Linked DNA regions of Homo sapiens. The protein of the gene in region 3 purifies or fractionates together with the protein of the main gene of each other region. This does not show direct contact. Each region holds a gene or a part of one and is shown on either strand. Other genes may lie near its edges.

What was found.
Region 1: the proteins of CEP170 (region 3) and PCYT1A purify together in Homo sapiens (affinity purification with mass spectrometry; 3 studies listed by BioGRID and IntAct, with this or other methods). This does not show direct contact.
Region 2: the proteins of CEP170 (region 3) and AKAP9 purify together in Homo sapiens (affinity purification with mass spectrometry; 3 studies listed by BioGRID and IntAct, with this or other methods). This does not show direct contact.

The regions. Positions count from the first base shown.
Region 1 is NC_000003.12:196,242,593-196,246,249, forward strand, and holds part of PCYT1A (choline-phosphate cytidylyltransferase A), read right to left. Parts: intron 49-3,657; coding exon 1-48. UniProt on the Homo sapiens protein: Catalyzes the key rate-limiting step in the CDP-choline pathway for phosphatidylcholine biosynthesis.
Region 2 is NC_000007.14:92,107,894-92,111,206, reverse strand, and holds the end of AKAP9 (A-kinase anchor protein 9), read right to left. Parts: intron 2,714-3,313; coding exon 2,574-2,713; intron 1,086-2,573; coding exon 1,048-1,085; 3' UTR 534-1,047; downstream 1-533. UniProt on the Homo sapiens protein: Scaffolding protein that assembles several protein kinases and phosphatases on the centrosome and Golgi apparatus. Required to maintain the integrity of the Golgi apparatus. Required for microtubule nucleation at the cis-side of the Golgi apparatus.
Region 3 is NC_000001.11:243,164,664-243,168,320, forward strand, and holds part of CEP170 (centrosomal protein of 170 kDa), read right to left. Parts: intron 1,454-3,657; coding exon 1-1,453.

The DNA.
Region 1 (3,657 bases), on a different chromosome or scaffold from region 3:
ACTGCCAGCAGATGAATAAGGAATATCATCATGGGCTACAAAATCAATCTGAAAATAAGGAAACATCATTAAAACCCATGATAACTGCCATTCAGAAAGACCCAGTCAATGTTCTCAGGCCCAGAAAAAGGACAATAGGCAGAGGCCAGGCCTCAGTGGACTTCATATCTCTCTTTGCTTTGCTCATAAATTCTACAATCTATTCACAAACCACCCAACCTAATGATTTATGGAGTATACATATGAAGTTAGCCAGCTGCTTTTGTAGCTATTTCTCCTAGTCTGCTAGAACTGTTACCCTCACTCTGTATACCAGTCATCTTGCTGTGGTCAATAGGGCCAGAGGGTTTGCTGGTGAACCGGTTAGTGGGTGGAGCCTAGGAAAGAAGGAAATCTCCCTGTCCTGGGTCTGGAAGGATTTGGTCAAATAAGGGTTTCTAAAAGTATGAGAAAGGCCAGGCACGGTGGCTCATGCCTGTAATCCCAGCACTTTGGGAGGCCAAGGCGGGCAGATCACGAGGTCAGGAGTTCAAGACTAACGTGGCTAACATGGTGAAACCCCGTCTCTACTAAAAATACAAAAAAATTAGCCAGGCATGGTGGCGGGCGCTTGTAGTCCCAGCTACTTGGGAGGCTGAGGCAGGAGAATTGCTTGAACCCAGGAGGCAGAGGCTACAGTGAGCCAAAATCGCACCACTGCACTCCAGCCTGGGTGACAAAGCAAGACTCTGTCTCAAAAAAAAAAAAAGTATGAGAAAGAGGTTACTTCTTTCTTAACTAGTTTCTCTCAGTCCGTGAGAAAAGAGGGAATATAAAAATAGCAACCACGAGCCCTCTGACTGGAATAGATACATCTATTGGCCTGAGAAATACAAACCGAAGGCCATAAGAGAAGTTTTCTCCCTCTCCCCTCTCCCTTCTCCCCTCTCCCCTCTCCCTCTCCCCACGGTCTCCCTCTCCCTCTCTTTCTATGGTCTCCCTCTGATGCCGAGCGGAAGCTGGACTGTACTGCCGCCATCTCTGCTCACTGCAACCTCCCTGCCTGATTCTCCTGCCTCAGCCTGCCCAGTGCCTGCCATTGCAGGCGCACGCCGCCACGCCTGACTGGTTTTCGTATTTTTTTGGTGGAGACAGGGTTTTGCTGTGTTGGCCGGGCTGGTCTCCAGCTCCTAACCGCGAGTGATCCGCCAGCCTCGGCCTCCCGAGGTGCCGGGATTGCAGACGGAGTCTCGTTCACTCAGTGCTCAATGCTGCCCAGGCTGGAGTGCAGTGGCGTGATCTCGGCTCGCTACAACCTCCACCTCCCAGCCGCCTGCCTTGGCCTCCCAAAGTGCTGAGACTGCAGCCTCTGCCCGGCCGCCACCCCGTCTGGGAAGTGAGGAGCGTCTCTGCCTGGCCGCCCATCGTCTGGGATGTGAGGAGCCCCTCTGCCCGGCCGCCCAGTCTGGGAAGTGAGGAGCGCCTCTTCCCGGCCGCCCATCGTCTGAGATGTGGGGAGCGCCTCTGCCCCGCCGCCCCATCTGGGATGTGAGGAGCGCCTCTGCCAGGCCACGACCCCGTCTGGGAACTGAGGAGTGTCTCTGCCCGACCGCCACCCAGTCTTGGAGGTGAGGAGCGCCTCTGCCCGGCCACGACCCCGTCTGGGATGTGAGGAGCGTCTCTGCCTGGCCGCCCATCGTCTGGGATGTGAGGAGCCCCTCTGCCCGGCTGCCCAGTCTGGGAAGTGAGGAGCGCCTCCTCCCCGCCGCCATCCCGTCTAGGAAGTGAGGAGCGTCTCTGCCCGGCCGCCCATCGTCTGAGATGTGGGGAGCGCCACTGCCCCGCCGCCCCGTTTGGGATGTGAGGAGCTCCTCTGCCCGGCCGCGACCCGGTCTGGGAAGTGAGGAGCGTCTCCGCCCGGCAGCCACCCCGTCCGGGAGGTGAGGGGCGCCTCTGCCCGGCCGCCCCTACTGGGAGGTGAGGAGCCCCTCTGCCCGGCCACCACCCCGTCTGGGAGGTGTACCCAACAGCTCATTGAGAACGGGCCATGATGACGATGGCGGTTTTGTCGAATAGAAAAGGGGGAAATGTGGGGAAAAGATAGAAAAATCAGATTGTTGCTGTGTCTGTGTAGAAAGAAGTAGACATGGGAGACTCAATTTTGTTCTGTACTAAGAAAAATTCTTCTGCCTTGGGATCCTGTTGATCTGTGACCTTACCCCCAACCCTGTGCTCTCTGAAACATGTGCTGTGTCCACTCAGGGTTAAATGGATTAAGGGCGGTGCAAGATGTGCTTTGTTAAACAGATGCTTGAAGGCAGCATGCTCGTTAAGAGTCATCACCACTCCCTAATCTCAAGTACCCAGGGACACAAACACTGCAGAAGGCCGCAGGGCCCTCTGCCTAGGAAAACCAGAGACCTTTGTTCACTTGTTTATCTGCTGACCTTCCGTCCACTATTGTCCTATGACCCTGCCAAATCCCCCTCTGCGAGAAACACCCAAGAATGATCAATAAAAATACATAAATAAATAAAAGAAGTTTTATCCTCAGGATCTATCATTTCACTACTTTTTTTTTTTTTTTTGAGACCGAGTCTCGCTCTGTCGCCCAGGCTGGAGTGTAGTGGCACAGTCTCGGCTCACTGAAACCTCTGCCTCCTGGATTCAAGCGATTCTCCTGCCTCAGCCTCCCGAGTAGCTGGGACTACAGGCGCATGTCACCCCGCCTGGTTAATCTTTGCATTTTTAGTAGACAGGGTTTCACCGTGTTGGCCAGGCTGGTCACGAACTCCTGACCTCAAGTGATCCACCTGACTTGGCCTCCCAAAGTGCTGGGATTACAGGCGTGAGCCACAGCGCCTGGCCATTTTACTGCTATGAATATCCTTTGCAAGGGCAAGAAGAGATGAATGATACTGGGGATCAATAATGTTGTTCGGAGGCGTGCTAAACTTCACTTACTCCTTCCTGTATGGGCCACCAGCCTTTTGCTGATAATTACTAAGATCACTATACCATCCCCGAGAGACCACTGTAGTGTGAAGCATGTTCATTGGGACTATGTCAGAGACTCTCAGCCAGCATCTCAATTACTCATGAACAACTTGTCAGGGATCCATAGGCAGCAAAGTAAAGAATAGGAGGCCGGGTGGATCACCTGAGGTCAGGAGTTCAAGACCAGCCTGGCCAAAACGGCGAAACACTGCCTCTACTAAAAATACAAGAAATTAGCCGGGCATGGTGGCGCGCACCTGTAATCCCAGCTACTCGGGAGGCTGAGGCAGGCGAATCACTTGAACCCGGGAGGCGGAGGTTGCGGTGATCCGAGATCACGCCATTGCACTCCAGCCTGGGCAACAGAGCAAAACTCTGTCTCAAAAAAAAAAAAAAAAAGAATGGGACAAGCAAAACTCAAGGTTGAGTATATATTGTTAACAAAGAGAAAAGGGGAGTTAGAAATTCCTCTAACTTCATACTTCTGTCTGGGCCTGTGGGCTGTGGTGCTGAGAATAAACTTGCTTACCACCTTTGGTGCCACTGGCTGCTAGGTGTTGATGTAGAAAAGCCAGAGAATTATAAAAGGTCTGTCCTAATCCTCAATAGTTTTAATAAATATCCCCTCTTCAGGCCTACCCACGTATTGCTTTAGAAGCACTTTGGCTGCCTTCATTCTTT
Region 2 (3,313 bases), on a different chromosome or scaffold from region 3:
TGTTGGTATAAATCATGGAACATCAAATAATAAGACAAAATCCTCCAGGTGTAAGCATCAAATACTAGTCCTCTTGCTGTTTTAGTGAGTTGCCATGTTATTGAGGAGGACTCCAGATGAGAAATAACATTGCGATCTGTATTATCTCTGTGAGAGCCTCCCAGTCTGAATTTGGCTTGGACAACAGGGATACTGTTTAATTCGGCTGCAATGTGATTAAGATCTTTTGAGTTAATGATTTCTTCATCTTTTTAGTGGGCCATGGATTTGTGAGAACACATCTTTGGAAACAAGTAACACTAACTGTAATATAGTAAATACTGATTAATCATGAAATACCAATATAGCTTTTAAAAAACACTATGTAGATGTAAAGTTGATACAAAGACACATGGAAAACTTTCAACAGTATTAACTCTAAGATTAGGACAACTTTCTCTGAATCTCTCACTCCTACATATTTGACATAAGTAATGAGATGCTATGTACCAAGAACTATGGCTCAGTTAAAAATGAAGAAGGTTCAAATACAGTGTGGTGAAAATGGTGAAGTCATTTTTATTTCAGTACTTGACAAAATACCCCATAAAATTCAAAACTTCTACCATTATACAAAAATAGGTCTCTACAAGTGATATTATCTGTCTTCATCACCAGTAGAATATATTAGGCAAAACATGTAACTTCAGTAGCCTTATAAGAAAAGTGCAGGACACCTCGAGCTACACATTCAGCAGTATTGTAATGCGTAAAAGTTTAATCTTTTCACCCATTTGATAAATACACAAGGTTTATAATTTAATGTTTTAAATTAGCATTCCACAAATATACAGGTAATTCAATAATTATTGTGCATGAATACATACACAATGCTTATATATACAAATTCCAGTTTGTTTTCATGTGCTGGCAAGGGATTTGTATACAATCATAAGCTGTGTTCATATTGGTCCCATTGAATATTCACAATACAAAAGCACAAAAGAACCATTGATTTACAAAAGGAAATCTATTTAAAATCACTTCAATTAATGATGTTTCAAAGGATTATCTTCTCATGCCAGCATGAAATTGAGTAGTTGAACCTATGAGAGAAAAACAGGAAATTCAACTGATTTCAAATTACATTGCTACCTGTATCAGACCCACCAGAGTTCACACAAAGGAAATTATTATTATTCTCCATTTTTTTAAAGCCCTTTTTTTCCTTAAAATGTCCTCTTCATACTTAAACTGAGTCTCTCCCCACTACCCCCAAGGTGGAGTGTTACTCTGTTGCCCAGGCTGGAATTCAGTGGTGTGATCTTGGCTCACTGCAACCCCCGCCTCCTGGGTTCAAGTGATTCTCCTGCCTCAGCCTCCTGAGTAGCTGGGACTATCCACACATGCCACCATGTCCAGCAAATTTTTGTATTTTTAGTGGAGACGGGGTTTCACCATGTTGGCCAGGCTAGTCTCGAACTGGTTGGTCTTGAACTCCTGACCTAGTGATCCGCCTGCCTCGGCCGCCCAAAGTGCTGGGATTACAGGCATGAGCCACCGCGCCCAGCCCATATACTTAAGCTGACTTTTAAGAGATTTTGAATATATATGTAAAAATCACCATGACTGGCTCTATGGCAAGGTAGGTGAGACTAATATTTAGAGTTTTTTTAAAGTGCTCTCAAAGTTGGATGTTCTATACCTCATACATTTTTGAAAAATCTTTTGGTCTTCAAAATCTGGGTCTTGTGAAATTTGGATGCTCAAAACAAAACAAGCCTAGGCAAACCAACAAACTCAGCTATGATAATAAAAGTTTCCTATTACTACAAGATGCTTGGGTGTAAACAAATGATTTCTTGAAGGAAGAGATAAACTACTCAATGATTCAAAGTCTCTGAATCAGGAGTGAACTGAAGTGAGATAGGGAAAAGAGGTTTTCCTTCCATGAACAGGGAATCCACCTTTATTTTAAAGTATGACTTGTTTTTTGTTTTTGAACAAAGAAAAAATAATCCTTACAAAGTATTTTAAATGGGATAGTTTTTTTCGATGATACATAAAAGCACAATATAGTAGCAGGGATAATGGTTACATTAAGTGCTTAAAGTAAGTGCTTCCTCCTTAACTCCACCCGATTTGCATGCCTTACCACTTTCTTTTTTTTTTTTTTTTCTTTGAGACAGGGTCTCGCTCTGCTGCCCAGGCTGGAGTGCTGCGGCACGGCCTTACCACTTTCTGCCATGCGCTACTTAGGAATACGTTCTCCAGTTAGGCTCTGTAGACTCAGAGTACCTTGCACACTGGTGCTCATTGTGCATTTTGTGTCATCAGTCCGCTGAATGAACATAGTAGGAAATCATTTTTGGGAGGAGTGGGATCTGGGGTGATAAATCATATTTTCACTTAAATTATTTAAAGTCAGTTTCTCTGCTGGTTACAAGAGTTTAAGCTTTGGCTAACTTAATAATTAGCTCATGCACTAAACTGGAAGCTTTGATTATCCTAATGAGTGTGAAAGAATTTCAAAGAAAGGGGAGCTGTGGGTCTCGCACTGTGGTGCTGCCAAGATGTGGTTAAACTCAGAGCACCTGACTGTATAGTTCCAAGTCGTCTTTGCAGTGCCTCTAGCCGAGTGATATAATCTGTTAGGGCTCTGTCAGGATCGTAATTCTGAAGCTGAGAACATGCTAAAGAACCAGGATTGAAATCAGCTGGAGTGCCTGGGTACCTAAAGGATTAAAAATATGTACATGAATCAAGTTATCCAGAAATATGCATATAAGTTACCAACCTGCCTCCACTCCCTTCCCCAAAAAGGTGGGTCACTTGTACACACATAATGTATCTCCTCCAAGCTTCAGCTTTGGAGCTTGGGATGAGAAAGAGACAACTCTCCAATGAATTCAAAGATGCTACTAAGTCAACATAAGAATGTCCAATACAATGCTTGTGGCAGAGGTCTCAATAAATTGGGTATGTATAAATGTATCTTGTCATGAAGACTGTTAAGCTTTTCATAATGATCAGAGTATCAATTTTAGTCAATACTTTTCCCAATATCTAACCATAGCATACACTAAATAACACTTGGTCAGCTTGTTTGCTATACCCTTGGAAATCAGTTACAAATTTAAACACTGGTTTTTACATTTTTACATTAAGCCTTAGGTTATGTATATTTTTTTTCTTTTTTTTTTTTTTTGGAGACCAAATCTTGCTTTGTTGCCCAGGCTAGAGTGCAGTGGCGTGACCTCGGCTCACTGCAACCTCCACCTCCTGAGTTCAAGCGATTCTCCTGCCTCAGCCTCCTGAGTAGCTGGGATTACAG
Region 3 (3,657 bases):
CTGGTAGGTCGTGGCCTTGGAAGGGTGGTTGATTTACTAGATGAACCAGATACCACCGGAGAAGTCTTAGATTTCGTTACTTTACTTCCTTCCAGTTTGGAATGTACATGCTCATCAGCTGAGGTAAGTGGAGTCCGTCCATGAGGTTTACAAGAGTAAGTTTCTTGATCAGATGACATAATATCAGAGATGGCAGAATGAGGTACACTAGAGGTTTGGTCATCATCTGTTAAGTCTACTGAGGGCTGTCTTATTCTCCCACTGGACTGAACAAATTTACGACCATCTGCTCTTGAACCCACATCTGTGGAACGACTTTTTGTTTTCTTTTCCATTTTTTCCCTAGCACCTGAAGATGATGATTTTGTAACATCTTTGGAAGGAGAACCTGTGGAACACCTATCTTTATAGAGGCTAGTGAAACTCTTTCGCTTTTGGGTTGACTTTCTTTCAGTTTCTCCAGTAACCAGACTGATTGTACTAGCTGTATCTACATCAGATTCTGGTGAAATAGAATTGTCTCTATTATAACTGGGAGTATCTGGTCCTTCATCAGTTTTATTATCTTCACGTAGTTTAGCTTCTAGAAAAGCCATTACTGCTTCTGTGTCTTTTAGAATAAGGGTTGTGTCCATACTAGAATCAGGATCCAAAGACTCACTTCTTTCTCGTATTCTACTTGCAGATGTTAATGCTAAAGAAGAAGGAGTAGAGGAAGTCTGTTTATTTATATGGGGAATAAGTTCTATGGGTATGTTTGGGCTGGGTTTTTCTATAGTGAAGCTCCCTTGTCGCACTAATGACTTGGAGGATTCCTTCTTGTCTCCTCCCTTTGGAGTCTGACTTTTCAGAATTTCCTCAGCTTTTCTTCTCTTGCTCTCACTTTGTGCCACTCTGTCTCCTTTGCTTGTAGAATGTCCTGAATTTTTTTCTGGAGGTTGTGATTCTTGTTTAAAAGTTTCCTCCCTACATTTATCTGTCTGACCTGAAACATTTTTGGAAGACAATTTAGTAGGTGTCCACTGAGCCTCCTCCCTTTGTTCTTGTTGTTGAAGTTTTGCTAATGTTTGCTTTACCAAAGAAGTTTCCTTATCAGTTTCACTTTTCTCTTTTCCAGGAGCAGAGCTGCCTAAGTGAAGTAGGGTTTTATTATCTCCACCAGTTTTGAGAGTCTCTCCATTTACTGCCCTGTTCATTTTACTCAAGGGTCTGTCAGCATCTTGTTTATCTTTCTGGTATACCTGTGTAGGTGTTTCTTTCTCCTGAAGTTCTGTGTCTTGTTTTTCTCCTATCTCTGACCTCTGTGTTACAACCTTTGCTCTGTGGCTCTCAAGAGACTTTTCTTCATTTGGAAGCTGGGGAAGAGTTCGTCTCCTTCTCTCTCCCTGGCTAGCCAAGGAAGTTGCAGAGCCAGTACTTCTCACTGTCATGCCAGACTCACTGATCTCTGTCTCTATGAAATAAAAACCACAAAGAAGGAATTGATTAAGACAAATAAAATAAAAATAAAAGGAGCATCATACAGTTGTCTGTCAGTATCCATGAAGACTGGTTCCAGGCCCCTTATTCCCCCAGGATACCAAATCCCAAGGATGCTTGAGTACCTTATATAAAGTGGTATAATATTTGTATATAACCTACTCACACCCTCCCATATACTTTAAATCATGTCTAGATTACTTATAATACCTAATACAATGTAAAAGCTATGTAAATAGTTGTTATACTGTATTGCTTAGTGAATAAGTACAAAAAAATAAAGACTACACACGTTCAGTGGGGACGCAATCATTTCTTTTTCCCCTCTCAAATATTTTCAATCCTCAGTTGAATTCACAGATGCAAAACCCACTAATACAAAACCTATGGCTAGAGAGGGCCAGCTATATTACATTACATTTTGAGATGTAAGTTAAAAATGACTTAAGTATACAAAACAAACGAGCCAGCATTGTGACGAAGTAGTTTAAGTACAATTTCAAGCTGCACAAATAAGCAATTCCTAGAGAAGTCAGGAAGGCCAATTGTATGAGATGAAAATTAGAGTCATCTGATCATTTTTCTCCTTTCATATATTTAATTTTCTATTTATGAATTGACAAAAATTATATATATTTGTGGTGTATAACATGATGTTTTGATATATGTATACCATTATGGAATGGCTAAGTCAAGCTAATTAATATATCCATTACCTCACGTACTTATCTTTTTTGTGGTGAGAACATTTAAGATCTACTTTCAGCTATTTCAAATACCCAAGGCATTGTTATTAACTATAGTCATAATGGTATAAAAGGGTCATCTGATCTTAAACCTAAATATATTGCTCTTCTTTCCTCTTAATGTGTTTTATAGAAGGGAAGTTCACTGTGTTCATTCTCACTTTTGTAACTTTCCATCCTTGAGGTTTGCTCAAAAAACCAGAATCTATTGTAGATTTATACAGAGAATGTCAAATAAACATTGTTTATTTTCTATATTTTCAACTACATAGTAGAGAAGAACAACATAACTAGTTTTTAAAAAGTATTATCTACTTGAAAGAATGATAATTTTGGATTTCCTAAGTAAAGTGAAAAATGCAGAACTTTTAACAACATTTTAAAAAAATCTATAGCCGATTAAAAGAATTTTAAAAATTGTAAGTATGTAACAGCAGACTTTTCATAGTTAGGACATAGCAAAATTTTATAAATTGAGGAATTTTTAAATTATAGTCTTCTGGTTATTAATGCCACATATGGAAATACAAAATCCCTTTCTTTTTTTTCAAGTAGAAGCCAATGAGAAAATATATATTTTGATTTTTCCACCTGAGAGAATTTGAGAATATTTAAGGATTTTCCTGACTATTAAAAATGGAATGTATTTCTGAGAAAAGGGAAACATCTTTTCAGGGAAATATAAATTAACATATAAAGCTTCCTAATCTTTTAGGGATAAATGGAGAAAAGATACTAGATATAGCTTCTGTGGGTCTTTTTTTTCCTCTTTACAATCCTAAAAGTTTAGTATTTAAATATCATATCAATACAATGGATGTGATGGAGGAAAATCCATACTGAACTGATAGATTTAACTTTAGTCATTAATCATGTTATATCTTGTTTTGTTTCTTCTTTCATATATCTTATCTCCTTAGTGCTAACTGAAGCATCTAGAATGTAATGGCTACTTTACCCTTTTGTATTTTTCCAGTATTTCTCATACTGCCCCCTCCTCATATACATTCAATATGCTTAACAAAAACGTTTTATTATTTAAGTAGATTTATCAGCTTATGTAAATAAGTTCATTTAAATATGATGACATAGAAATGAGATCATGAAAGCTAAGTGGTCTATTATTTTTTATAACAAGGGTAGAACTTTGCTTTTCACAGATAATACTTAATAATTTTATAACGGATTCTTTGGTAAAGTTATCTAGCCTTCTGTCTGGTTTCTTTGTTTCCTAAACACAGTTTATACGAACCAAATGACTCTGTTCCCTCAAAAGAATTTTTGGTCATACTATCAATAACTTCTAGATTCTAATATAAATAAATGACGTAGCTTTTCTAGTACACTGCTATGTAGCTTCCTCAAATACTTCTAATACTTACAAAATTCTTAAAACAGATTTTTGGGGTGCCACAAGCCTGAGACAAAACAA